Linked DNA regions of Homo sapiens. The protein of the gene in region 2 purifies or fractionates together with the protein of the main gene of each other region. This does not show direct contact. Each region holds a gene or a part of one and is shown on either strand. Other genes may lie near its edges. The genes, in order: KIAA0232, DOCK5, DDX11, MADD, RAB3GAP1, C5orf34 and ELMO2.

Region 1 (3,500 bases), on a different chromosome or scaffold from region 2:
AGTTTGCAGTGACACAGTACAGATGGTGAGGGGACACTGCAGACCTCTGTGTTGGGAAGGGAGTTTGCAGTGACACAGTACAGATGGTGAGGCGACACTACAGACCTGTGTGTTGGGAAGGGAGTTTGCAGTGACACAGTACAGATGGTGAGGGGACACTGCAGACCTCTGTGTTGGGAAGGGAGTTTGCAGTGACACAGTACAGATGGTGAGGCGACACTACAGACCTGTGTGTTGGGAAGGGAGTTTGCAGTGACACAGTACAGATGGTGAGGGGGCACTGCAGACGGGTGTGTTGGGAAGGGAGTTTGCAGTGACACAGTACAGATGGTGAGGGGACACTGCAGACCTGTGTGTTGGGAAGGGAGTTTGCAGTGACACAGTACAGATGGTGAGGGGGGGCACTGCAGATGGGTGTGTTGGGAAGGGAGTTCTTTGGAGAAGAGGCCCGCTCAGCTGAGAAGCCAGCCATGCAGAGGTGCCAACACTCTGTGGTGTCGGACTGTCTCCCCTACACCAGATGGTCAGCATCTCTGGACCCCAGGACATGAGATGCAGTGGTGGCCCCTCCTCAGTCACAGTCATTACAAAGCTCCCCTCACCCTGCCATAGTAACTAGCAGCACTCCCACCTCATTTCCAAATGGCAGCATTGCCCCTGGTTGAGAACCCCTGAGGCAGAAGCACAGAAAAGCCACACAGAGTAAGGGGAGAGCAGAGACAGATGAGGTCAAAGGCAGACGGGGGCAAAACATACAGGGCTGTAGAGGCGTGGCGGGGAGTTTGGATCTGTCTCAAATGCAACAGCAAAGTGACATCATGGTTAGCAGTATGGGTCCTAGAGGCAGACTGCTGAGGTTCAGAGTTCAGGTCCACACTGAAGCTGTGGCTCTCTGGCCTCGGATACACGGCGCCTGATGTTTTTGTGCTTCACTTTCCTATTTTGCAGAACAGGCATGACAACAGTACCTACCTCACAGGGTCGTTGTGAGGACTGAACAAGATACTGCTCGTGAGGTCATTCTGTCTGCTGTGTGGAGAGAAGGCTGGAAAGGATGACGAAAGCAGGAAGGACAATGAAAAGACCATGGCAGCTGTTCAGGAGCAGGGACAGTGGCTTGAACAAAGTGGTAATGATGGAGAGGAGGAGAAGTGGGAGATGCGAAGTGGCTGACAGCGGGGAACGGTCAGGACTGGCAGGCAGACTGTGTGTGGAAGATGAGAGAGAGGACTGGGGAATATGTCTCAGTTTGGGGTTTGAGGCTGGAGGGATGATGTGAACTAGTCACTGAGGAGAGAGCTGGTGGGGGCCTCAAACATCTGCCTTCATGTGTGGAGCCGGACAGGTCAGTGGGCAGCAGGACGTGGACGATGATGCTACAGGTGCTTGGGCAGACAGTTCTCACAGGACTTGAATGGACACTGACAGATGGTTAATACTGAGTGTCAACTTGATCACATGCCGTGTGATTCAAGTTAACGGGAAACTACAACAGCCCAGTCCAGACAGGATACAAATGGCTCAGACTCTTTAGGAATGAAGGTTTAGGTCACTCCACCGGGAAAAAACCACAACCTGCTGAGGTGCTTGCTGAAGGCAAAGGGAATACAGAATGGGTAGTAGAAGAAGGTAGTCATCAATACCAGCTACGACCATGTGACCAGGTGCAGAAACCAGGACTGTAATTGTCTTGAGGAGTATTTCCTCCTTCGTTAAAAACACGTTTGTGCATGTATACACTTGTACTAAGAAAATCTCATTTTATTTTTTGTCCTTTATCATGTGACACAAGATTTATGTATGTATATATTTATGTATGTATGTATGTATGTATGTATGTATGTATGAATGAATGATGGAGTTTTGCTCTGTCACCCAGGCTGGAGTGCAGTGGTGCGATCTCAGCTCACTGCAATCTCTACCTCCTGGGTTCAAGCAATTCTCCAGCTTCAGCCTCCCAAGTAGCTGGGATTACAGGGGTGCACCATCACGCCCGGCTAATTTTTGTATTTTTAGTAGAGATGGGGTTTCGCCATGTTGGCCAGGCTGGTCTTGAACTCCTGACCTCAGGTGATCTGCCCACCTTGGCCTTCCAAAATGATGGGATTACAAGCGTGAGCCACAGCGCCCGGCTGACATAAGATTTATTGACTTCATATCAGCATTTAAGTATTGTTAACTCTATGTAATAGTACTTGGGTTTGGGATTGGTGCTTTTCCGGTTGTATGAAGCATAGCTGTATTATGTTAGGTATAATTATGACCTTATTGTCTTTATTTGAAGATTACATATAATTTCAGGAGATGTGTATGGGTTCAAATTGACAAGGGGTGGACTTGTTATGGTTAATACTGAGTGTCAACTTGATTGGATTAAAGGATGCAAAGTACTGATCCTGGGTGTGTCTGTGGGGGTGTTGCCAAAGGAGATTAACATTTGATCCAGTGGGCTGGGAAAGGCAGACCCACCCTTCATCTGGGTGGGCACCATCTAGTCAGCTGCCAGCGTGGCTAGAATATAAAGCAGGCAGAAAAATGTGAAAAGACTAGACTGGCCTAGCCTCCCAGCCTACATCTTCTCCCATGCTGGATGCTTCCTGCCCTCGAACATCGGACTCCAAGTTCTTCAGTTTTGGGACTGGGACTGGGACTGGCTCTCCTTCCTCCTCAGCTTGCAGATGGCCTATTGTGGGACCTTGTGATCGTGTGAGTTAATACTTAATAAACTCCCCTTTGTGTATATATATACCTATTCCATTAGTTCTGTCCCTCTGGAGAACCCTAATACACTGACAATTCACACCAAATAAAAAGAATTTTCCTTAGGTTCATTTGCCTGCCTGCCTCTTAACCGGGGAAGGTCTAAGACGAGACTAAACCAGGCGGAGGCCCCGCTCCCGCCTTCGTGGTGCCCACAGGCTTGTGGAAGAGGCAGACATGCAGAAACGGAACGCAAGTACATGCTCTGGCTACAGCAAGAAGAGTCGTGCACAGAGTGCAGGAGGACACGGAAAGGGCGGGATCGTTCTGCAGAAGCCGGGACAGCGGCAACAAGCACACTGGCAAGGCTGCCTCAGGGTGCACTTTCAAAGAGGACAAGGCTAGGTCTCCCACTTATTAGGTAAACAAAAAAAAAAAAGATGAAAAGTGTGCCCACCCAAGGAGCAACAGGGTCAGCTCTGCATTTGTAATGCAATGCCCTCGGGCAGTAGTGTAGAGCCAAGACTGGGGAGAGAGCTGGGGATTCTTCAGGAAGCACTGGCAGTCAACAGTCAAGGGGGTTTGGAAGCGGGGGAGAATGCAGACTCAGAACAAAGGCCAGAGAACAGGAAGTCTGCACCCACAGGCCTGGCTGGTTCCTGGGAGAGGTGGGGTCCACTCACATGACTCCCAGGTTTTTGACTACAGTGACAACTGGAGGTGGTGGCTGTTTGTAAGTTAATGACGAGGAGGAGGACAGTCCACTTACCCTATTAAAATCTAACAGGCGCTCTTCATTA
Region 2 (3,500 bases):
TTTTAATTTCATGGACCCCCCCCATTCTGAACGTGTCTCCAAGACCCCACATGTCCCTGGAACATACTAAAATAAAGGGTTCAGAATGGTACCTCACAAGAGAAGTTCTCAATGAATACTAATTCTCTCTTCCTTTTGTTCTTAGCCTCAATGCTGTTAAAACATGACCAAGTTCAGGAGATCAAGACCATCCTGGCTAACACGGTGAAACCCTGTCTCTACTAAAAAATACAAAAAATTAGCCTGGCGCAGTGGCGGGCGCCTGTAGTCACAGCTATGCGGGAGGCTGAGGCAGGAGAATGGCGTGAACCCGGGAGGCGGAGCTTGCAGTGAGCCGAGATCGCGCCACTGCACTCCACCCTGGGCGACAGAGCAAGACTCCGTCTCAAAAAAAAAAAAAAAAAAAAAAAAACCCATGACCAAGTTAAGGCCAGGCCTTCTTCGGGTCATTATAATTATATAATATCCGGTACAGTGTTATGTGCAAAGAGGTGGTCAACAAGTATCACTGTCTTGCTCAGATGGCACTGTAACTAATTAGCTATGTGATCCTCAGCCAAGGATACTTAATCTGTTAAATCCAGAGGATCCACGAACTTGAACAAGAAAAAAGTTACATCTCTATTTTCTGACATTCAGCACTCACTTTAATTACGACTGTAGCCAATAAACCGCAATTGCACTACTAGCGCCTGTGATACTGTCACCAATAAAACAGGGATTTTTATATCATAGTATGGTTACTGCAGATATCTTGAAAAATCATATATGCTCGTGACTAATTCAAAATTATGCTAGTTATTAGACCTGTCACTAGATCTTGGTACTTTATGCATTAATAAAGAAGTACATATACTGCAGTATCACGAACTTTGAAAAACACCTTCACGGCCTATTTCAATACGGCTGTTTTCATTTTCTATCCTTTGTAATTTACTTAATTTTTATTTCTACAGTGACTTGGAACTTTGTATCGTACTTTATGCATTTAAAAACATTCTGGGCCAGGAGCGGTGGCTCACGCCTGTAATCCCAGCACTTTGGGAGGCCAAGGCGGGCACATCACATGAAGTCAGGAGTTCCAGACCAGCCTGACCAACATGGTGAAACCCCGTCTCTACTAAAAATACAAAAACTGGCCGGGCGTGGTGGCGTGCGCCTGTAATCTCAGCTACTCAGGAGGCTGAGGCAGGAGAATCGCTTGAACCCAGGAGGCAGAGGTTGCAGTGAGCCAAGATTGCACCACTGCACTCCAGCCTGGGCGACAGAGCAAGACTCCATCTCAAAATACAAACAAATAAGCAAACAAAAACACAACAAAAGCCCAAGTCTGAAGTCAGTCTTAAATCAGCATTCAAAGCTCTACTCCGTTAAGTCAGATGCTTCTAAACAACTAAAGAGCTTTAAACAAGTAAACACCTGAAGAGCTAACTAGTAATATTTCCCAAAACTGCCTTTTGTTACATCATAAAAATATATGTGATCACAAATCCCAACATGCAACAATGAGCTACTTTTCAAAGAATAAGGCTGGGTGTGGTGGCTCATGCCTGTAATCCCAGCACTTTGGGAGGCTGAGGCAGAAGGACTGCTTGAGCCTAGGAGTTCCAGACCAGCCTGGGCAACATGGTGAAACTCCATCCCTACAAAAAATACAAAAATCAACTGGTTGTGGTGGCACGCACCTGTAGCTCTCAGCTCTCAGCGGGCTGAGGCTGGAGGGTCACTTGAGCCCAGGAAGTTGAGGCAGCAGTGAGCCATGATTTTGCCACTGCACTCTATCCTGGGTTACAGAACGAGACCCTGTCTCAGAAGAAAAGAAAAAAAAATCAGCCAGGCTCATGGCTCACCCCTGTAATCCTAGCAACATGGGAGGCTTAAGGCTGAAGGAGCACACGAGGCCAAGAGTTCCAGATCAGCCTGGACAATATAGAAAGACTCCATCTTTAAAATGATTATTTTAAAAGTTTAATATTTTAAAACTTAAAAAATCAAAAAACTTAAGCCAGGCATGGTGGTGCACACCTGCAGTTCCAGCAACTTGGAAGGCTGAGATGGCAGGTTGCAGTGAGCTATGATCATACTGTACTCTAGTCTGGGCTGTGGAGTGAGGCCCTGTCTCAAAAAAAAAAAAAAAAAAAAGAAAGAAAGAAAGAAAAGAAAAGAAAAAAAAGCTTTGCAAAGAATCCATAGTCAACCTAATCTGGGGCTATTCTTTACATAATGGCTTGTGTGGAAGCAAACTTAAAAATAAATGTTTTTATAATCAGACTATTCTGGATATTTATCACTAATGTTTGCTTAAAAGTGTTTTATATCTTCATATGCTCAAACAGAAAAAAGAGAGAGAAAAGAGAAACAAAGAAAGAAAAAAGATGAGAAAAAAGCACATTTTCCACGTCTCCAGGGAAGAACACTTAGCCACTGAGCACTTAACACTGGGGTACTAGAGCACCATAAGTTTAAAGAATCAAATAGATCAGTCACTTCACTTGATAACACACAGAAACCATTGAGATCCACTTAATGCTAGAGCCTGAGCCAACACTGCTGTTTAAGAACTAAGAAAGCCCAGACAGGCTGCATTTCAGTCCCTGTAGAAACATCTAGGATATGTCAGGAACAGCCAAGAGTGGCACCAAGATAAAATATGACAGTAGCGACTGCCAGCTTCAGCAGGCACAATTCATACTGAGTCCAAAGCTCTATCCTCACACAGACTAGCTCTGCAGAGGCACACTCCTCTTAGAGCACAACAGGCAAAGTCATAGCTAGCTCTGAGTCATCCAAATGCTTCAACATGACTATCCTACGGTTCCTTCATCCAGAAACCAAATCTGACCAGTACACACTTAGAGAAGTCCAGAAAGCCAATTTTCCCAACTATATTTAAGAAAGTCTGTCTGCTCCATGCTTCCTTGTTTTCTCAGCAGAATATCTCATTCTCTTACTTGCAGAGATAAAGACAGAGTGGAGGCTCTCCCTTCCTCCATCTAACCAAACAAAATTCAACTCATATTGGGGTGAATGAGATGTTATGCCTAATGGGAAGAAAAAGAAGAGGAAAAAACTGCATTCAATTACCAGACAAGCTAGGTTAGTGTACTTTAGAACGGCACCCCAACATCAAGGACAAGCAAACTGAATGCACTAATACCTGGTACACCTGTTGAGTGCTAGGAATACAAAACCACAATGGTCTGATTCACTGAACCCAAGGATGGCACAGTCCAGGAACTGCGAGGAAGAAGCAAGGAGGTTTGGGACAGTCTGACAAATAGCAAATTTGAAGAAGGGAGTAGGAATGGATTTGAGCCCTCAAGGAAAGGTGAGCTGTCTGAGGCAGAGTTGGGAGGGCACTCCTGGCAGGGACAGGCACAATGGGAGCAAAGTCCCAAAGGAGGGACTCTGCAGGGTATGTTGCACAACAGTGGGAAGGGCAGTTGGTCTGCATTGGAGAGCTAGTGAAAGAAGCCTCGAGAGATAATGCTGAAGATAGG
Region 3 (3,500 bases), on a different chromosome or scaffold from region 2:
TCACGGAGCCAAGAGAGGGCCCCACAAATAAGACTTAAGGACTTCCCCTGCAGGAAGAAAAATGATCTTTAGAAACAGGAAAACAACAAAGCCTCCCAAATGACCTTTCCCCATTTTAATAAAAGCTTGAAAGAAGGTCTGGCTGTACATAGGAGAGGATGCTCTAAGACCAGCCTAGGAAAGGAAAGGAAGGAAATTAGCACTAGAATAGCCAGGAAAAACAGAAAAAAGAAAGAAATGGAAACTGGGCCCAAGAAGCAGGAAAAAGCTTCTTTAATTATCCAGCTCACTGTTCTGAAAACAAATTTGAAGCAGTTTATCAGATTCTATGTAAATATCGCACATAATTAGAAGAAGGGGAGACATTAGACAAAAAGTCCCCTAAAAGAATTAAGGCCCCAAAATGCTGAGCAAGAAATCCCAGGTACTCGCCAACAGGGAGCCAGAGTGACCGCGCGGCCTTCGTGCAGCTCGTGCGTGGATACAGGATGATCAGTCATGAGCGCCAGTGCTTACGGTTTGTGTTTTGTTTTGTTTTTTTTTTTTTAAGCAAACTAATCACTCTGGAAGACACCACTCTGTCTGTTTTTGAGAGGAGGTCTTGCTATGTTGCCCAGGCTGGTATGGAACTCCTGGGCTCACACAGTTCTCTGGCCTCAGCCTCCCAAGTGGCTGGGACCATAGGTGTGCGCCTCCATATACAGACTGGAGAACACTACCCTTGACTTAAGACCAGAATTTTCCATAAGCCTGATTGAGTTGTATTCCTCCAAATTCCTGTGTTGAAATCCTAACCCCCAGCATCTCAGAATGTGGCCTGATCTGGAAATAGGACTGTCGCAAATGTAATTAGTTAAGATGAGACTACTAGGACGGGACCCAGCCTAAAGGGCTAATATCCTTATTGGAAAGGGGACACGTGGATGCAGACATGCACAGAAGGCAGGCGATGTGATGATACCCAAGGAGAACACGCCACCTATAAGCCAAGGAAAGGGGCCTGAAGAGATCTTTCCCTCACGACCCTCAGAAGGGACCAAGCATGCTGACACCTTGATCTCGGACTCCAGCCTCCAGCGCTGTGGGATGTCAGTTTCTGTTGTTTAAGCCCCAGTTTGTGAAGCTTTCCTCTAGCAGCCCCAGGGAACCAATACAGTTCTTCCAGAGAGGACCCTTCAGGGAGCGCCACAAGGAGGCGGCCCTGGTGTCCACAGGGGAACTCAGCTCAGGGGAGTCTCTGGAGGACCCCATGCCTTCTGCTCCAGGCAGTCAGCTCTCTGAGCCTGCTGAACCCAGAGGGGATCTCAGAGTATCCAGGGCGGGGTGAAACACCTCGTATGACTACGGTTGGGGCAGCAGCGCGGCGCAGGAGTCAGAGTCTCAAACTCCACAGCCAGGTGCCAGGGTTCCAGCTGTCTCCCCCACCTGCAGCTCTGTGGCTCAGGCTGGCCTCACTACGCTTGTTTCCACGAGTGCAGAAATGGAAATGACAACAGCGGCACCTTCCTCATAGAGCTGGTGCAAGCAGGACATTAACACACACAAAAGGCCAAATCCTCTGGATTAGAGGATTACCTGGCAAATAACAAGTGAGCGGTTGGAGTTAGCTAACTTTTTGCTATCATTAAGTAATAATAATAAAATTATTAATAGCATTATTCTGGAATATGGGATCTATTAGTTTTCATCAAAATCTTGAAAGGCCCTGGGATAGGATAGAATGACATTGTTGACAAATGGATGGATCCCATATTTTTAGGAAAGCCCCATATGTACCATTTCCCTCAGCTTTTGATAGAAAGTAAATGGCAAAGAGTTCCAGGCAGCATTTCCCAGCAGCACCTGGAGGGCGGCTCTTCTGTGCTGTCTGTGATATCGGAAGCAGTCAGCTTCAGCTGTCACTGGGCTGGGAGACACAATGGTTAGAAAGCCAGTGCCCTCCATTTGAAAGTGAGCTGAGGAAGTTCCTAAGGGTATGGTCAAAGTTATCTTTCAAAAACAACCGTGGTATACTCCGGCACAACAGCAAAAGAATAACTGAGGCCCACTGTTTTCTACATCGTGTAATAAGACCACAAAACTTTTAGACTGGAAAATGTTAAAAGGATTTATAACCAAAGGCTCACCTTCCTGGGGTATCATCAACAGTTACATGATTTATGCCAAGATAAGCAAATTCATTCACTCTGAACACCTGCTGGTTGCAGCAAGCATGGGGCTCAGAGCTGAGGACACAAAGGTGCAGAGCCCCTAGAAAATGCTCACAGGTTCACATGTAACATACAATTCGAGGGCATCATAGATCCCCGCAAAGCATGCATTCCAGGTTGGATGACTCCCGGAACTGCAGTATTACACAAGGCACAGCACACACCAAGTGGTAATGGTGACTCAACTTGATAGACCTGTATAAGGCTTAAAAGGTGACTATCAAGGATAAACAGCATCTGGGGCAGCTAAGGTGGGGCACCTGTGCATCCACGGCGGGGAAGGGCATGGTAGGCACAACAGGTAACACAAACCCCACTCAGGGTGTCCCACAGCATGGCTGCTTCTATGGGCTGCGGGACACCCAGGACAGGAGAAAACACTCTATTCAGGAGATGATTTAGAAGACAGAAGAATGTCAAAGGTAATAAAGCCACAGGGTACATTCACAGAGACTGCACACAAGAAGATGAAGCTATAGAACCAGAAACATCGACAATTAAAGGCTGAGCAGAGGAAGAAGACGCAGAAGCCTGGAGTGCAGAAGACTGAGATGGAAAGACCTGAGAGGGAGAAGATGGGTTGTCAGGCTAAACAAGGTGAAAGGGGTCAGGTACAGTGGCTCATGCCTGTAATCTCAGCACTATGGGAGGCCAAGGAGGGAGGATTGCTTGAGCCTAGGGGTTTAAGACCACCGGCCTGAGCAGCATAGTGAGATCTCATTTCTACAAATTAAAAAATTAGCTAGGTGTGATGGTGCACACCTGTAGTCCCAGCTGCTCAGGAGGCTGACGTGGGAAGATCACTTGTTGCCAGAAGGTTGAGGCTGCAGTAAACCATGATCTTAACACTGCACTCGGCCCTGGGCAACAGAGCAACACCCTGTCTCTAAAATTAAACAAGGCAGAATGAACATGCACTCATCTGTGTTCCAAAGCACACTAAAATTAACCAAAGTAATATGGAGGCTTACACCCACAAAAAGAAAGTGGAAGGAGTAATATGTTTTAGGAGAGAGGGAAAGAAGGCAGAGACATGGAAGTGATTTCGGCAGAGACACTCAAGCCCAAGTGTCCCCAGAGATCTCCCCCACTCATTCTCAGAAAGACTCAGGAAGTGGTAGGAACACAGCAGGCCACTGAAAACAAAGGGACGGGTTGAAATTCTTTTTAAGAACAATTAGATTCTCAGGTTGCAATCCCTGCTCCTGCTCCTTGCAGAAGACAGGAAGTGGGCTCTAAGTGGAAGCTGAGCTAGGAGAGCCCTGGAGGCAACCGGCAGATTGAGGAGGC
Region 4 (3,500 bases), on a different chromosome or scaffold from region 2:
AAATCAATCAATAAAAAATGGATGTGAGGAATTACTCAAAGAAAGGAATTTTTTTGTTTGTTTGAGACTGAGTCTCACTCTGTGGCCCAGGCAGGAGTGCAATGGCGCAATCTTGGCTCACTGCAACCTCTGCCTCCTGGGTTCAAGTGATTCTTCTACCTCAGCCTCCTGAGTAGCTGGACTACGGGCGTCCACCACCATGCCCGGCTAATTTTTGTATTTTTAGTAGAGACAGGGTTTCAACATAATGGCCAGGCTGGTCTTCAACTCCTGACCTCGTGATTCACCTGCCTCGGCCTCCCAAAGTGCTGGGATTACAGGCATGAGGCACCGTGCCCAGCCAAATAAAGGAATTTTTGAAGAAAGGAACCCTCAGGATCAACTCTAGAAGATAATATAAAAGCAGCCAGACGGTCCACACTACTAACTTCCACCTAACAAGACTGAGAAAATCGGCCGGGCGCAGTGGCTCACGCCTGTAATCCCAGCACTTCGGGAGGCTGAGGCAGGCGGATCATGAGGTCAGGAGATAGAGGCCATCCTGGCTAACATGGCAAAACCCCGTCTCTACCAAAAATACAAAAAAATTAGCCGGGTGTGGCGGCGTGCGCCTATAGTCCCAGCTCCTGGAGAGGCAGAAGAATGGCGTGAACTCAGAAGGCAGAGCTTGCAGTGAGCCGAGATCGCGCCACTGCACTCCAGCCTAGGGGACAGAGCAAGACTCCACATCTCAAAAAAAAAAAAAAAAAAAGACTGAGAAAATGTTCTGAAGCCATAGAGAGTGGCACACATACAAGAAACAGAGAGTGAAGGGCTATTTTATACAGCATCATAAGCATTAGAAGATGGTAAAGCATACAATGAATTGGAATCAAAAACAGAAATTCACTCTGCCACCCAGAAATGGGATACGCGTTTTCTTAAGCCCATCCAGGGTGAAGAAAACTACTCCACTTGAAGTTTGATAGGAAATTGGCTCTGAGAATAGCTGTCTTCTTATAGGAATCCCACAGCATCTAATACTCCCCTTTCTTTCCTTCGTTCTTCACCTACCTGCTTTAAATGCTTTTTCAGCTCTAGTGATTCTGGTTCTGGCAGGATAGGCAGCACTTCTGCATTGGTGGGGGCAATCACCTGCACCAGAGAAATGATAAAAGACGTGACCTTAGAGTTTATTGCTCAGGAATTTCACTTACATAAATAAAAATAAGAGGACGTATATACATTATTATTATATAAACGAATATACATTATATAACTGCACAGTAAGATATATGTACACACATATATGACATACATATGCATCTGAAATGAAATATAACTTAATGTTATTGGTTATTATCTCTAGATAAAAGGATTATGGTTTTTCTTTTCACTTATTTTATTTACGCTTATTTTTATTTTTTTTAAGTTTTACAATGAGCACACATAAGGGCTTCCCACCAAAGTCTGAATGTATTCACATTGCAGAATGGTCATATAATTAATTAAGCCTGCACTGAAAGACAGTTTCTTACTGGAAACTATACCCCAGGGAAACCATTAAGAGATGATCTATACCACATGTAATGGCCCTCAGATCACAACTGTCTGACTGCTCTTGGAGGATATGGTGGGGGGTCACTTAATTCTGGCAAAAATAAATCCTGTAATTCTCTGAGACCTAACCAAGGGTTTATTTGGCTAATAAGGTAAAAGGAGCATTTAAAAAAACTTGTTTCAGTAAGTCTCGCAATAGAAATTATCCAACAACTTAGGACGTTCCTGAAAGGAATCTAGAAACAGATATCTCAGGACTGGGTCTAGAATGCAATCCTCCTCTAGACTCTACAATGCCTCAGCCAAGAACCTCACCCTATTGCTGTCCAGATCCACTAGCCATACATCATCAGGCATTTTGAAGTCCAGTTTGTAGAGGAAGAAGCTGGCAGGAACCCCAATGATGTACGGGGTTGGAGCCAACAGCAGCTGTGGAAATGATAAAGAAGGTGAGAAACAAAGACAAAACCTATCATGAGCACTTATCAAGTCTGGATTCTTCTAGATAAGGAAATGCAGATACAATCCCTCTTCCAAAACTCTTGAGGCCAGATGTATTTGAAAATTCAGAATTTTTCAGATTTTTTGAAAGGTAACATGGTACATTTTTTTGTATACAGTAGTCTTTCTTATCCACAGTTTCACTTTCTGTGATTCCAGTTAACTGAGGCAAACTGTAGTCTGAAAATATTAAAAGGAAAATTCCAGAAATAAACAATTCATAAATTTTAAACTGCAGCTTGATCATATCTGAAGTGCAGGACAATAGTTCTGAGAAGCATGATGAAATCTCATGCTGTCCCGCTCTGTCCCACCCAGACATGAATCACCCCTGTGTCCAGCCTGTAGCCATCTCGGTTATCAGATCAACTGTCACACAATCTCAGCGTTTGTGTTCAAGTAACCCTTATTTTACTTAATAATGGCCCCAAAGCACAAGGGTACTGATGCTGGCAATTGGGATATGCCAAAGAGAAGCCAAATATATGTAGAAAGAGGCTGGGCACGGTGGCTCATGCCTGTAATCCCAGCACTTTGGGAGGCTGAGGCAGGCGGATCACCTAAGGTCAAGAGTTCAAGACCAGCCCAGCCAACATGGTGAAACCCCGCCTCTACTAAAAATACAAAAAATTATTTGGTGTGTGGTGGTGGCAGTGCCTGTAATCCCAGCTACTAGGGAGGCTGAAGCAGGAGAATCACTTGAACCTGGAAGGCAGAGGCTCCAGTGGGCCGAGATTGTGCCACTGTACTCCAGCCTGGGGGATAGAGGGAGACTCTGTCTCCAAAAAACACCAAATATATGCCCAAAGAGAAAACTGTTACTCTCTTACTGTGTCTAATTCATAAATTAAACGGTATCACCGGTATATATGTATAGAAAAAAACAAAGTATCTATAGAGTTTGGAACTATCTGTGGTTTGAGGCATCCACTGGTGGGTCTTGGAATGTGTCCTCCACAGATAAGGAGGAACTACTGTATTACGTAACACACGTAACACCTGCTGCAGTGTAGCCAGTGGCCTACAGTCATTAACATTTGTTGTGATAAATGAAAACTAAAATAGCATAAGCCTTGCCACCAGATCAGTTCAAATCAGTCAGATTTTGTAGACAAATAAGTTATGACAAAGGATTGAGGACCAGCACTCACTTACAACTTCTTTGAGCATTAAGCCTCCTCCCTCAGGAAGACAGAGGTGAGAAAGCCGGAAGTCGCCTTGAGACTCACCTGCTCTGCTGATGCCATGCAGGTGGGTAGCAGCGGGATGACAGGAAACATATACTCCAGTGGGTAGATCATTGCCACGAATGCCATCACAGACATGGAGAGTGCATTGTAGTCTCGGGACTGTAGCACCACCTGTCATGAGCCATCCAGTAAGAATCACTCCAAAACATAAAATATGGTTTACAAGAAAACAGCTTCCAACATTACAACTTGGTTTCCACTTCATCGAGC
Region 5 (3,500 bases), on a different chromosome or scaffold from region 2:
TAGTTGAGATTAAAGAGCTATGATAACTAAAGGCAATGGATGATCCTTACCAAGACTTGTAGTGGTTGAGGGAAAGGGTCATAAAAGACACATTTTGCGGCCGGGCGCGGTGGCTCATGCCTGTAATCTCAGCACTTTGGGAGGTTGAGGTAGGTGGATAATTTGAGGTCAGGAGTTCGAGACCAGCCTGGCCAACATAGTGAAACTCCGTCTTTACTAAAAATACAAAAATTGGCCGGGCAGTAGTGGCCATGTGCCTGTAGTCTTAGCTACTCAGGAGGCTGAGGCAGGAGAATCGCTTGAGCCTGGGAGGCGGAGGTTGTGGGGAGCCAAGATCGCACCACTGCACTCCAGTCTGGGCCAACAGAGAAAGACCCTGTCTCAAAAAAAAAAAAAAAAAAAAAAAAAAGACACATATGGGATCAGTTGACAAAACTGCAATAAAGATAGTAGGTTAGATTACAATTATTTTTATCAGTGTTAAATTTATTGTATATAATCAGAATCATTTGCATTTTGATTATATAATAAAATATTTTTAATTTTAGGAAATACAGATATTTTGGGATAAGGGACATGAGTGTGCGACTTATTCTGAAATTATTCGAAACAAGTTTATGTCTATAGTATGTACACACATGAAAGCAGAGAAAGATGCAAGGGATCCAGAACAGAGGAGGGAGACAGGTCATACGTGAATCCAGGTAAAGGGGAATCACATATTTCACGTTATTCCTGCAAATTTGTTTTTCTGTGAATCAGGGGAAAACAAAATTCAGAAAGGTGGGTATTAGCAAGGATGTACAACAGAGGGAACTCATTACTCTAGATAAGAATGTAAATCTGTTGAAACACTTTGTAGGATAATTATGTTGTACATTTCCTAGTTCAATTGTTAGGTATATATCCTAAAGTAATTGCTGTACATGTCCCATTTGCACCAGGAAATATGTGCAATAATGTAATAGGAGCATCATTTGTAATAGCCAAAAACTGAGGAGCTATCCACTACTATTAGTGTAGGAACATTTTAATACAGCAGTGAAAATGAGTAAACTATAGCATATTGGAATGGTATACGAATATCAAAATACTGAATGAAAAAAAGCAAGTCACTGAGGGCTATAAACAGAAACACTCCATTAATATAAAGGTTAAAACTAGACAAAAGTAAACAATATATTATTTAAGGCTACATATGTGAAAAAAACCATAAAGAAAAGCAAAAGAATGATTTGTAGTTAATTCTGGGGATGGAGGGTACACAGGAGGACTTGGAAAAGCCTGGTAACATTCTGTTTCCTAAGCTGGTGTTTTCTTTAAACTATTTCTAATACTCTAGTATGTATATTTCTTAATTTAAAAAAAGTTTCAAATCAGACAAAACTCTCTAAGCCAAAAAAAAGTCCACCACAAGTCATTAAATAAAGCAAATAATAAAACAGTATGTAAGTTATTAATTTTTGTTAAGAAATTACATATGCATCTACATTTTTGTGTTTAAATGGACATACAAGTAGTTTGAGAGGATAAACACGAAAATGTGGTTTTGGGGAAGTAGGATTTCAGGAAAATTTCTGCATCACCTGTATTTTTTTTAAAATTTTGAAATCCATGAGCATTTATCAGTCAGACTCACATTATGAGATTATACTTCTTAAAATTTTTATTGATGTAAAAGAATTGTACATATTTATAGGGTTATACTTCTTTTATCTTTACTGTTGAATAAGGAGCCTAAAGGTAGGGTCCATGTTTTGTACATACTTCTCTGTATTCTTATAATAAGAATTGGAAAAAAAATAAACCAAAACAACTAAAACCAAAAAATGTGTGGGAAGTCACTAACAATGTTTAGAAATATTAAGTGAGAAAAGCAGGTTAAAAGGCAGTATTTTACATATTTAATATTAGTGCCCTTAGTACGTGTATTCTGCGTCTTAAAATGAAAATGCTCCACTGTCAATGGTTGTTTTCTCTTGGTATTGTAATCAGTCGGTAGTTTTTATTTTCTTTGTATTTTCCTTATTTGTGTGTATTACATAAGAAAGCAGAAAAAAATAGAATATTTATAATTATTAAAGATTGAAGTTCTTAGGTGCTTTCAGTAACATTATCCTCACCTTTGGGGTCGTGGCTGCCTATCTGGAGTGCTGTCTTGTTAAGGATTAAGATGAGTGGCTGAGGATTTGCACTTCTGTAAGTGGCTGCTTCATCCTTTGACACCTGCGCTGATCATTTGTGTGCGCTGCACCTCCTTCAGGTGCTGCACTATCTGGCAATCCAGAAACCTGCAGACCTTGCTCGGCACCTGTTACCTTGTGTGATTCATGCAGCTGTACTCAAGGTAAAGGAAGAAGGTAAATGTCATATTTAACTAGTCATTAGTCATTTCCAAAGTGAAAGTATATTTTGCTTAATTTATTTAATGCTGGCTTCAATCTTTTCTAAAATAGAAAGTCTCGAAAACATTTCTTCAGTTAAGAAGATCATAAAGCAGATAATATCCCATTCCAGTAAAGTTTTGCACTTCCCCAATCCAGAAGACAAGAAATTGGAAGTAAGTTTGATGTAGTGTCAGAATCTTGCCAAGTGTTCTCCTCAGTTGGCAAAAATAATTTTTAAGATGCGTTTTCAAAGGGCTTTGCTTTTTTGCCATCTCGCAATGTATGCCTCTTCCTTTTCTACCGCCAGGAAATCATTCACCAGATTACTAATGTGGAAGCTCTCATTGCCAGAGCTCGGTCACTAAAAGCCAAGTTTGGAACTGAGAAATGTGAACAGGAGGAGGAAAAGGAAGATCTTGAAAGGTAATTGCTATTTGGCTAATTCAGTTTTGTCTGCAGTAGGAAAAGCCACCACTCTCTTAAGAAAAATTGTAATAGGATATTAAGACTCTTTTGTGGTAATCATATATTATTTGAAACAAGCATTGTCTAGAGACAGAAATAATTATCATAGCATTTGACCTCTCCCGTATTTCTGAGTCTCTACCAGGTGTTTCCATTCTTCCCACTTTTAGAAACAGTCTCCCAGAGCCTCCTTTTCTAGGGATTCCTTGGTTTGCTCTTGGAGATGTGGTGTCTGGAATTTCTTGTGGAGGAGCTGTTAACTGTGTTGCTCACCCTGCCCCAAAACTTTGTTTTCAGCTGTTACTATTCCTTGACCACAGGGTGCAGGTGCTGAAACCATTTCTGCTTACTGTTCCTAGTTGTTTATTTTAAACAAGATTTGTGATAGCAAAGGTGCACATCCTATGTGCCTTGCGATTATGTTTTGAAAGATTGACCAGATGGCTTTTCTCAGATGAAGCAAATGATTGGGGCATTCTCTTTATGAGACTCGGCACCATTACCAATGGAGCTTAGATCAGTGTGAGGCCCTGTTCATTTTTTGCCCATGTTATTTGGAAGGACAATATTGTTTTAATGTGTGATAAAGTGTTCACAAATTAGCTTGTTCAGTGGCTTAAATTTGTCATCATTTAAAAATTTTCATTA
Region 6 (3,500 bases), on a different chromosome or scaffold from region 2:
TATGCAAAGTTGATGTTACAAATCTACAATCCTTAGTGGAGTTAAAAGTTTTATACTTAGCCTTACAGAAGCCACTCCGTGTGTACCCCTTTTGAAAACAGACGTATTTATAGTCAGTGAACCAAAGACACGGGTAGCCTCTGAAGCTAGGTATGGACAAAAGAACTGTGTCAGATCCACACTCCAGCAAGCAAGGTCACGGGCTCCAGTGAGCGGCAGCAGGTGCTCCCCTGGGCCCACAGAGCCCTGTGCAGACTCCTGTCCCATCATTTAGCATACTTTAATAATCTTTTTAGGTACAGTGACCTTCACTAGATTCTAAGTTGCTATAAAGCAGGGACTGTGTCTTAGTCATCTCTGCAGTTACTGGACTTAGCACAGTATCTAGTGTAGAGTCAGCCTTCTACATTCAATGCATGGACACAGAGTAAAAAACATAAGCAACACATTTGCTAGGGAAATTATTTACTATCAGTTAAAAGCAAAATTTTGGATGAGATAAACTTTCCTTGTGAATGGTATCAGATAAAAAGAAAATTATCCAGGTTAAGACTGGTTCTGATAAAAAGCTTCATGACCAATAGCCATTACTGCATTACCTGTGTAGGTGTGGGACTGGACAGCTGAGTGACAGGGCCCTGGGAAGAACAGAAACCACTTTTCCTCTTTCCTCTGAAATATCAGAAGTTAAAAATCTACTCTGAGTTATATGTGCATCAATTTTAGACATATTGCTGATTTTATTATGAAAATGAAGTGCTAAAGACAAAGGATATTTCCATTCCTCTGGACAGGCAGCCACAGACCAGCACTGCTTGACCCATGTGTATACACATGTGTGCTTTGTACCAGGCGAAGGCAGCTCTTCCCTCCCTTCAGTTCCATTTACACAACTCATCTTCTTTAAAGTTTCTTTGGATTTCATGATCTGGCAATGAAACTCATTTTCTTTATTCTTCAGTCTCTGTCCTGGTAAATTTCCACGTATACAGATTTTGCCAGTTTTTTCAACTAGTTTATCTTTTGGGGCTTTATTATTTGTTTCTGACAACACTGCAGATGAGTCTGACTTCTGGCTAACTTTACACAAAAAATGTACTGTAAATTCATGCTGAGATCTGGGCAGGCAGAGGTATGCATGACCATCTAAAGATGTTATCTTCACAATGCCACTCTCCATATATATCATGGTACCATCTGTATCAAGACTGGGCCATCTCACTTCTGTTATGTCAATGAAGATATGCTGCAAGGAGAGGGGAAAAGAGACGGTGAGTATTTTCTGTTAACAGTCCAATTTTTCCATATATTTGATATTTAAGTATTGTGTAAGAAAGCTCTTAAATATTTGTGTTTTACTATCTACAGAGAATGAAAAAATGGAGGGCCAGATCTCAGCCTATATATGATTTTCCAGAGAATGTTTGATATTGTTAAGATTATCACCCTTAAAAAAAAGAGATGTAAAACAGACACAAAATGAGAGAAATGGTCATATTTAGTGTTAAATGTATTTTGGTTTTAAATGTACAATGAATTAAACAGATTTGTATCCCTCCCCTCACCCTGCAAAAGTTTACTCTGAAAAAAAACTAGAAATAAGGGAAGACCAACACTATGATACATTATATTAAAAGCAATCATAGCTAAAAATTTTTCTTTAAGTTTTAAATAAAAAAAAAAGCAACCATAGCTTAAATGGTACAGGACTACCATAAAAATTATTGACAGAACAACTCAGAAAATTCAAAAACAAACTCAATCATATCTTAAAATTTACATGAGATAACATAAGTTTTTCAGAGCAAGAGGGAAAAGAGAAAATTATTTAAACTAGTACTAGAATTACTGAACAGCATTTGGGAAATTCTGTCTTGCAGGGTTATCACATGAACCAAATAAGGTAACATGTAAAAAGTACCCATCCTAGGTAGTACCTGGCACACCATACACTAAAATAAATTTCAGGAGGCTTAGAGGAAACTTTAAAAAAGTTTAATTACTCAAAGAAAAATTGATTCTGACTAATAAAAGACTCATAACAAGTAACAGTGTTGATTGTGACTTTTCATATAAGATATAAACAGTAGATATTGCGTGAGAGGTTTTTACTGAATTAATTTTGCCAAGCATTTAGCATTTCAATTCCATTTATGTAAAATCTTACGTTTACACAAACTATTGTCAAGAAAGCTTCCTAAATTTACCATGCTATCTATATGTACGATGTTAGGACACTAAAATTGAGGGCTGTATTTACTGACAGCAAAGCTGGTTTGTAAGGATGGTCATCAAACTCCTCTTTTAGAATTAGACTATCTAATAATCCTGCTGCAGCATCAGCAACAAGCTAGGCAGTTTCAGTGAATAAAGTGACTCAAAAGACACAATGGAAAATTACCATTCTAGGCTAAGTTACAACTTATAATTTTTTATGGCTCCTTTGCCACGAGACAATATAAAATTACTCAGCCGGCAGGCAAGCATCTTGACAGCATAGAAAGGTAGCAGAAAGTAGTTGAGAAACAGAGTTTACAGAGTCAGATAGACTAGGTTCAAATCCTGACTTTGCCACTGAGAAAACTGCCATAGACAAATTAGGTAAACTCTCTAAGACATAATTTCCTTGCCTATAAAAAGAGGCTGCCGGCCGGGCGCGGTGGCTCACGCCTGTAATCCCAGCACTTTGGGAGGCTGAGGCGGGCGGATCACGAGGTCAGGAGATCGAGACCATGCTGGCTAACATGATGAAACCCCGTCTCTACTAAAAATGCAAGAAATTAGCCGGGTGTGGTGGCGGGTGCCTGTAGCCCCAGCTACTCGGGAGGCTGAGGCAGGAGAATGGCGTCAACCTGGGAGGTGGAGGTTGCAGTGAGCCGAGATCGTGCCACTGCACTCCAGCCCTGGCGACAGTGTGAGACTCCGTCTCAGAAAAAAAAAAAAAAAAAAGAGGCTGCCATCTAGCCAATATACCTGTTTTGATTGGATGGACATCCATTTTGATCAGTATGGTGTTATTAAATATTTCTAATATTGTTCATAGTTGTTGGACATAGTAAACCCTCAGTAAATGACAGTTATTATTCCTAAAAGTCCAAACACAATACTATATAAGCAAAATAATAAAGGTCATACCCATAGTTACATATTTCTACTATACATTAACAAATACGCTGTTACTGAAAATGGTCACATAATTACTTAATTTTGAGACCTCTGAGAATGAAAAAGTCACCAATCTAAAAATTCTGATTATAATGCTTGGATACAAAGAAAATGGCAAGGGGGATACACTATGTAACTTTGATGTTTTATAGCAATGTATCCCCAGGTGTCCTGAAAAGGAAAAAAAGGCTAAATATTAAATTACCTGTTTCTAGTTACTTGTCCTCAAATAATACTAACAAAAATGAAGTTAAAAAAATCACCTTTTTTCTTTCAGAAGGTATGATGGTTTCAGATAAAAAAGGGCAAGTAGCTGAAGAGTTTCGAAAATCTAG
Region 7 (3,500 bases), on a different chromosome or scaffold from region 2:
AACTATACGATATGACTTTTTAGATCATTTGTTTAGTTTGGCTTCTTCTTATTTTTAAAATAAGCAGGCACAGAAGGTACAACAGAAAGAACACTGGGCTGGGATAATTGTCCCTGCTGAAACAAGTGACTGGATTTAGAACCAAAGGCCTCAGGACCCAATCCTAGGTCTTTCACAATGTATACATGGCCCTTTAACCAAATCTCAGTTTTCTTCTATTGAAAGATGTGAGTGTAGAACTAAAGCATGTCTCAGGTGCCTTCTAAGTCTAAAAGTCCATGATTCTTAAGTGGAATTTAAAAAATCCAAGTGAGGATGCCCATTTTAAAGTCCTTACCAAATGAAGTTACACCCTTCCTTAATTTCGATGGTGCTGCTAAGAAACAAACCCCATGATTTTTAACTCCTTTCTGAACGCCGTCTTTGGAGATTAAGCTAAAGCTCATTAGGTTATAGCTATTATTTTCTCTTGACCCCATATGACATATCCTAGATTGACTCTCTCTTTATTAAAGTTAGCCCTGAATGATTCTCGGCTGTTCAAAAATTCGTATACATTTTAAAGCATGGAGATTTGCAACCACCAAACTATTTGAAAGATATTAATAAGCCCCCATTCTCAGTGACTCTGTCCTTCCCACAAAGCCCAGGCAGCCTCTCTGAACTGAATGACACTCTCCACAACCCTGCCATAGCTGATGGGACTAAAGTGAATACCCAACTTTAGCTGAACTATTCCAGTTCTTTCTCTTGAATTTAAAAGACAGAGACTGGCTGGGCGTGGTGGCTCATGTCTATAATCGCAGCACTTTGGGAGGCCAAGGTGGGTGGATCGCCTGAGGTCAGGAGTTTGAGACCACCCTGGCCAACATGGCAAAACCCCGTCTCTAGTAAAAATACAAAAAGTAGCCAGGCATGATGGTGGGCGCCTGTAATCCCAACTACTCGGGAGACTGAGGCAGGGAGGACAGCTTGAACCCAGGAGGCGGAGGTTTCAGTGAGCACAGATTGCACCATTACGCTCCAGCCTGGGCGACGGAATGAGACTCCATCATAAATAAATACACACATACATACATACAAACAAATAAAAGACACAGACTAAGGGAACTGGGTGATAATGACCCTGGAGAAGTAAGATCATAGTAAGCTTCAGAGCGAATACCATGGCAAGCCAAAGATCCGTACGAGCCAAAGATATGGAGAATAAAAAACCAAGAGCCTTTCAGAGGAAGTGATTCTGCAGGAGGAATCCATAAATATCTAAATGAACTGAGGCCAGAAATCAGAAAGAGATGGAAAAGCCATTACCTGCTAACTTTCCAGATTATGTGGCTATTACTTCCTATGCTCGGGGTACCTGAAAGTCCACTGTATCCTGCCAATAAAACTCCTATAAATTAAGCTAGTCTATGTTTCTACTCATTGCAACTAATACGCCTAAGACCACAGCTGCCCCCAAGCTCTGCAGGAACTCTAAAACGGAGGTCTGAGCAGACAGCAGCATCACTAGCATATGATGATGGTACTGGGTAAGCACTTAATTAACAATGGCTGAATTAATGAGAGCAAAACCCATGGGTTTGCTCTTACCCACTAGATAAGTCTGATTTGTTTGAAACAGATCGGTTATATGGTAACTTCATAGTAATCATATATCTAGTAGTAACGTACAGGTAGCCTCTTTATTTTTATTTTTTTAAATTTTTTTTAAAAGATGGAGTCTTGCTCTTGTCGCCTAGGCTGAAGTGCAATGGCATGATTTCAGCTCACTTCAACCTCTGTCTCCTGGGTTCAAGCGATTCTCCTGCCTCAGCTTCCTGAGTAGCTGGAATTACAGATACTCACCACCACGCCCAGCTAATTTTTGTATTTTTAGTAGAGACGGGGTTTCACCATGTTGGCCAGGCTGGTCTTGAACTCCTGACCTCAGGTGATCCATCTGCCTCGGCCTCTCAAAGTGCTGGGATTACAGGCGTGAGCCACTGTGCCCAGCCCAGGTAGCCTCTTTATAGTTGATTGCTCACTTCTATATCATTATTATAGTTGATGCTCATAAGAACTCTGAAAAACATTCCTACCTTACAGGTAAGGCAACTGAAGTTCAGACGGATTGACAAACTTGTTCTCCATGTACCTCTTTCTACACCTCCCTCCTAAAAGAAGGAAGGAAAGAAAAAAAATGAAGGGAGGGAAAAGAAATAAAACTAAATCAACCCAACACATCAGAACTGGGTCTCAAGCCTAGGTCTTAGGACTCCAAAGCGAGTTCTCATCGCTCTATATAATACTTCCTTAGATGATGACATTAGCTAGCAATTACATAATGCTAAGGCACTATTTTAAGGGCTTTACATATATTAATTCATTTAATCCACACAGCAATGCTGTGTGGTATGTTATTATCCCCACCTTAGAGATAAGAAAATGGAGGCACAGAGGAGTTAAGTAGAAGGCTCAGTGTCACATAGCTAGCAAGTGGCACAGCCAGAATTTGATACCAGGTTGTCTGGTGTTGCTGGAAAGCCATGAGAAAGCAGGTGGCTCTGCACCTGACCCGCAGCAGGTGCTTTGTGGAGATTTCTGGTTTGTGTATCTGAAACCAAAGCACACTGAGGCTAAGAAACCTTCACAGCAAGAACTCACCATTGTAACAGAAGACAGCTCTCCACTGTCTACAGGTGGGCCACACTCCCTCGTGTGCTATTTGGTCCTTTACAATCTAGCCATCCTGGACTACGGGCTATTTCTATAAGGCAGGCCATGTTCTTTCAATTCTTCTGTACCTTTGCACATTCTCTTCCTCCTACTGACTGTCAGAAGAGCTCCTATTCAAGCATCAGAGCCTAGTTCGGATGTTACCTCCTCCTTGTACTAGTCTTAGCTTTCTCTACTTTCCCTGGCAAAAGTAAATAGGACAGGGGCCTCTGTGTTCTCACAGCATCCTGTTCATACTTCCGTTAATGAGTACGATTTTGTCATACTCTATTACAGTTACATATTTACACATCTCCACTAGCTCCTCCTCCAGAACAGGTATAACTCTGCAGTCTCATAACCTAGCACAGCACTTGGTGTCCAGTGAAGGCTCAGTAAGCACCTGTGTCTGCTTAAACCCAATGGCTCTGATTTCTTCCACTCCTGTGAACCAGGCTGGCTCCAAACAGACAGGGACAGGCATGAACTGTGCAGGCTGTCTGGTGTTCCCTCTGCGTCCCAATACCCTCTAACTACACAGTATTTCCATTGTTTAACAGTTTGTTTTGGCTGGGCGCAGTGGCTCACACCTGTAATCCCAATGCTTTGGGAGGTCAAGGCAGGAGGATCACTTCAGGCCAGGAGTTCGAGACATTTCTCTACAAAAAATAAAAATTAGCTGGGCATGGTGGCGTGTGCCTGTAGTCCCTAGCTACTCAGGAGGCTGAGGCAGGAGAGTTGCTTGAGCCCAGGAGTTCGAGGCTGCAGTGAACTATGATCATGTCACTGAACTCTAGCCTGGG

What was found.
Region 1: the proteins of DOCK5 (region 2) and KIAA0232 purify together in Homo sapiens (affinity purification with mass spectrometry; 2 studies listed by BioGRID and IntAct, with this or other methods). This does not show direct contact.
Region 3: the proteins of DOCK5 (region 2) and DDX11 purify together in Homo sapiens (affinity purification with mass spectrometry; 2 studies listed by BioGRID and IntAct, with this or other methods). This does not show direct contact.
Region 4: the proteins of DOCK5 (region 2) and MADD purify together in Homo sapiens (affinity purification with mass spectrometry; 2 studies listed by BioGRID and IntAct, with this or other methods). This does not show direct contact.
Region 5: the proteins of DOCK5 (region 2) and RAB3GAP1 purify together in Homo sapiens (affinity purification with mass spectrometry; 2 studies listed by BioGRID and IntAct, with this or other methods). This does not show direct contact.
Region 6: the proteins of DOCK5 (region 2) and C5orf34 purify together in Homo sapiens (affinity purification with mass spectrometry; 2 studies listed by BioGRID and IntAct, with this or other methods). This does not show direct contact.
Region 7: the proteins of DOCK5 (region 2) and ELMO2 purify together in Homo sapiens (affinity purification with mass spectrometry; 3 studies listed by BioGRID and IntAct, with this or other methods). This does not show direct contact.

Annotation. Positions count from the first base shown.
Region 1 is NC_000004.12:6,876,727-6,880,226, reverse strand, and holds part of KIAA0232 (uncharacterized protein KIAA0232), read right to left. Parts: coding exon 3,470-3,500; intron 1-3,469.
Region 2 is NC_000008.11:25,187,689-25,191,188, reverse strand, and holds part of DOCK5 (dedicator of cytokinesis protein 5), read right to left. Parts: intron 1-3,500. UniProt on the Homo sapiens protein: Guanine nucleotide exchange factor (GEF) for Rho and Rac. GEF proteins activate small GTPases by exchanging bound GDP for free GTP. Along with DOCK1, mediates CRK/CRKL regulation of epithelial and endothelial cell spreading and migration on type IV collagen.
Region 3 is NC_000012.12:31,080,360-31,083,859, reverse strand, and holds part of DDX11 (ATP-dependent DNA helicase DDX11), read right to left. Parts: intron 48-3,500; coding exon 1-47. UniProt on the Homo sapiens protein: DNA-dependent ATPase and ATP-dependent DNA helicase that participates in various functions in genomic stability, including DNA replication, DNA repair and heterochromatin organization as well as in ribosomal RNA synthesis.
Region 4 is NC_000011.10:47,276,633-47,280,132, reverse strand, and holds part of MADD (MAP kinase-activating death domain protein), read right to left. Parts: intron 3,402-3,500; coding exon 3,270-3,401; intron 1,969-3,269; coding exon 1,855-1,968; intron 1,135-1,854; coding exon 1,054-1,134; intron 1-1,053. UniProt on the Homo sapiens protein: Guanyl-nucleotide exchange factor that regulates small GTPases of the Rab family. Converts GDP-bound inactive form of RAB27A and RAB27B to the GTP-bound active forms.
Region 5 is NC_000002.12:135,160,292-135,163,791, forward strand, and holds part of RAB3GAP1 (rab3 GTPase-activating protein catalytic subunit), read left to right. Parts: intron 1-2,263; coding exon 2,264-2,360; intron 2,361-2,456; coding exon 2,457-2,560; intron 2,561-2,694; coding exon 2,695-2,810; intron 2,811-3,500. UniProt on the Homo sapiens protein: Catalytic subunit of the Rab3 GTPase-activating (Rab3GAP) complex composed of RAB3GAP1 and RAB3GAP2, which has GTPase-activating protein (GAP) activity towards various Rab3 subfamily members (RAB3A, RAB3B, RAB3C and RAB3D), RAB5A and RAB43, and guanine nucleotide exchange factor (GEF) activity towards RAB18.
Region 6 is NC_000005.10:43,505,149-43,508,648, forward strand, and holds part of C5orf34 (uncharacterized protein C5orf34), read right to left. Parts: coding exon 3,429-3,500; intron 2,050-3,428; exon of another isoform or gene 1,247-2,049; coding exon 600-1,246; intron 1-599.
Region 7 is NC_000020.11:46,396,616-46,400,115, forward strand, and holds part of ELMO2 (engulfment and cell motility protein 2), read right to left. Parts: intron 2,157-3,500; 5' UTR 2,082-2,156; intron 1,405-2,081; exon of another isoform or gene 1-1,404. UniProt on the Homo sapiens protein: Involved in cytoskeletal rearrangements required for phagocytosis of apoptotic cells and cell motility. Acts in association with DOCK1 and CRK. Was initially proposed to be required in complex with DOCK1 to activate Rac Rho small GTPases.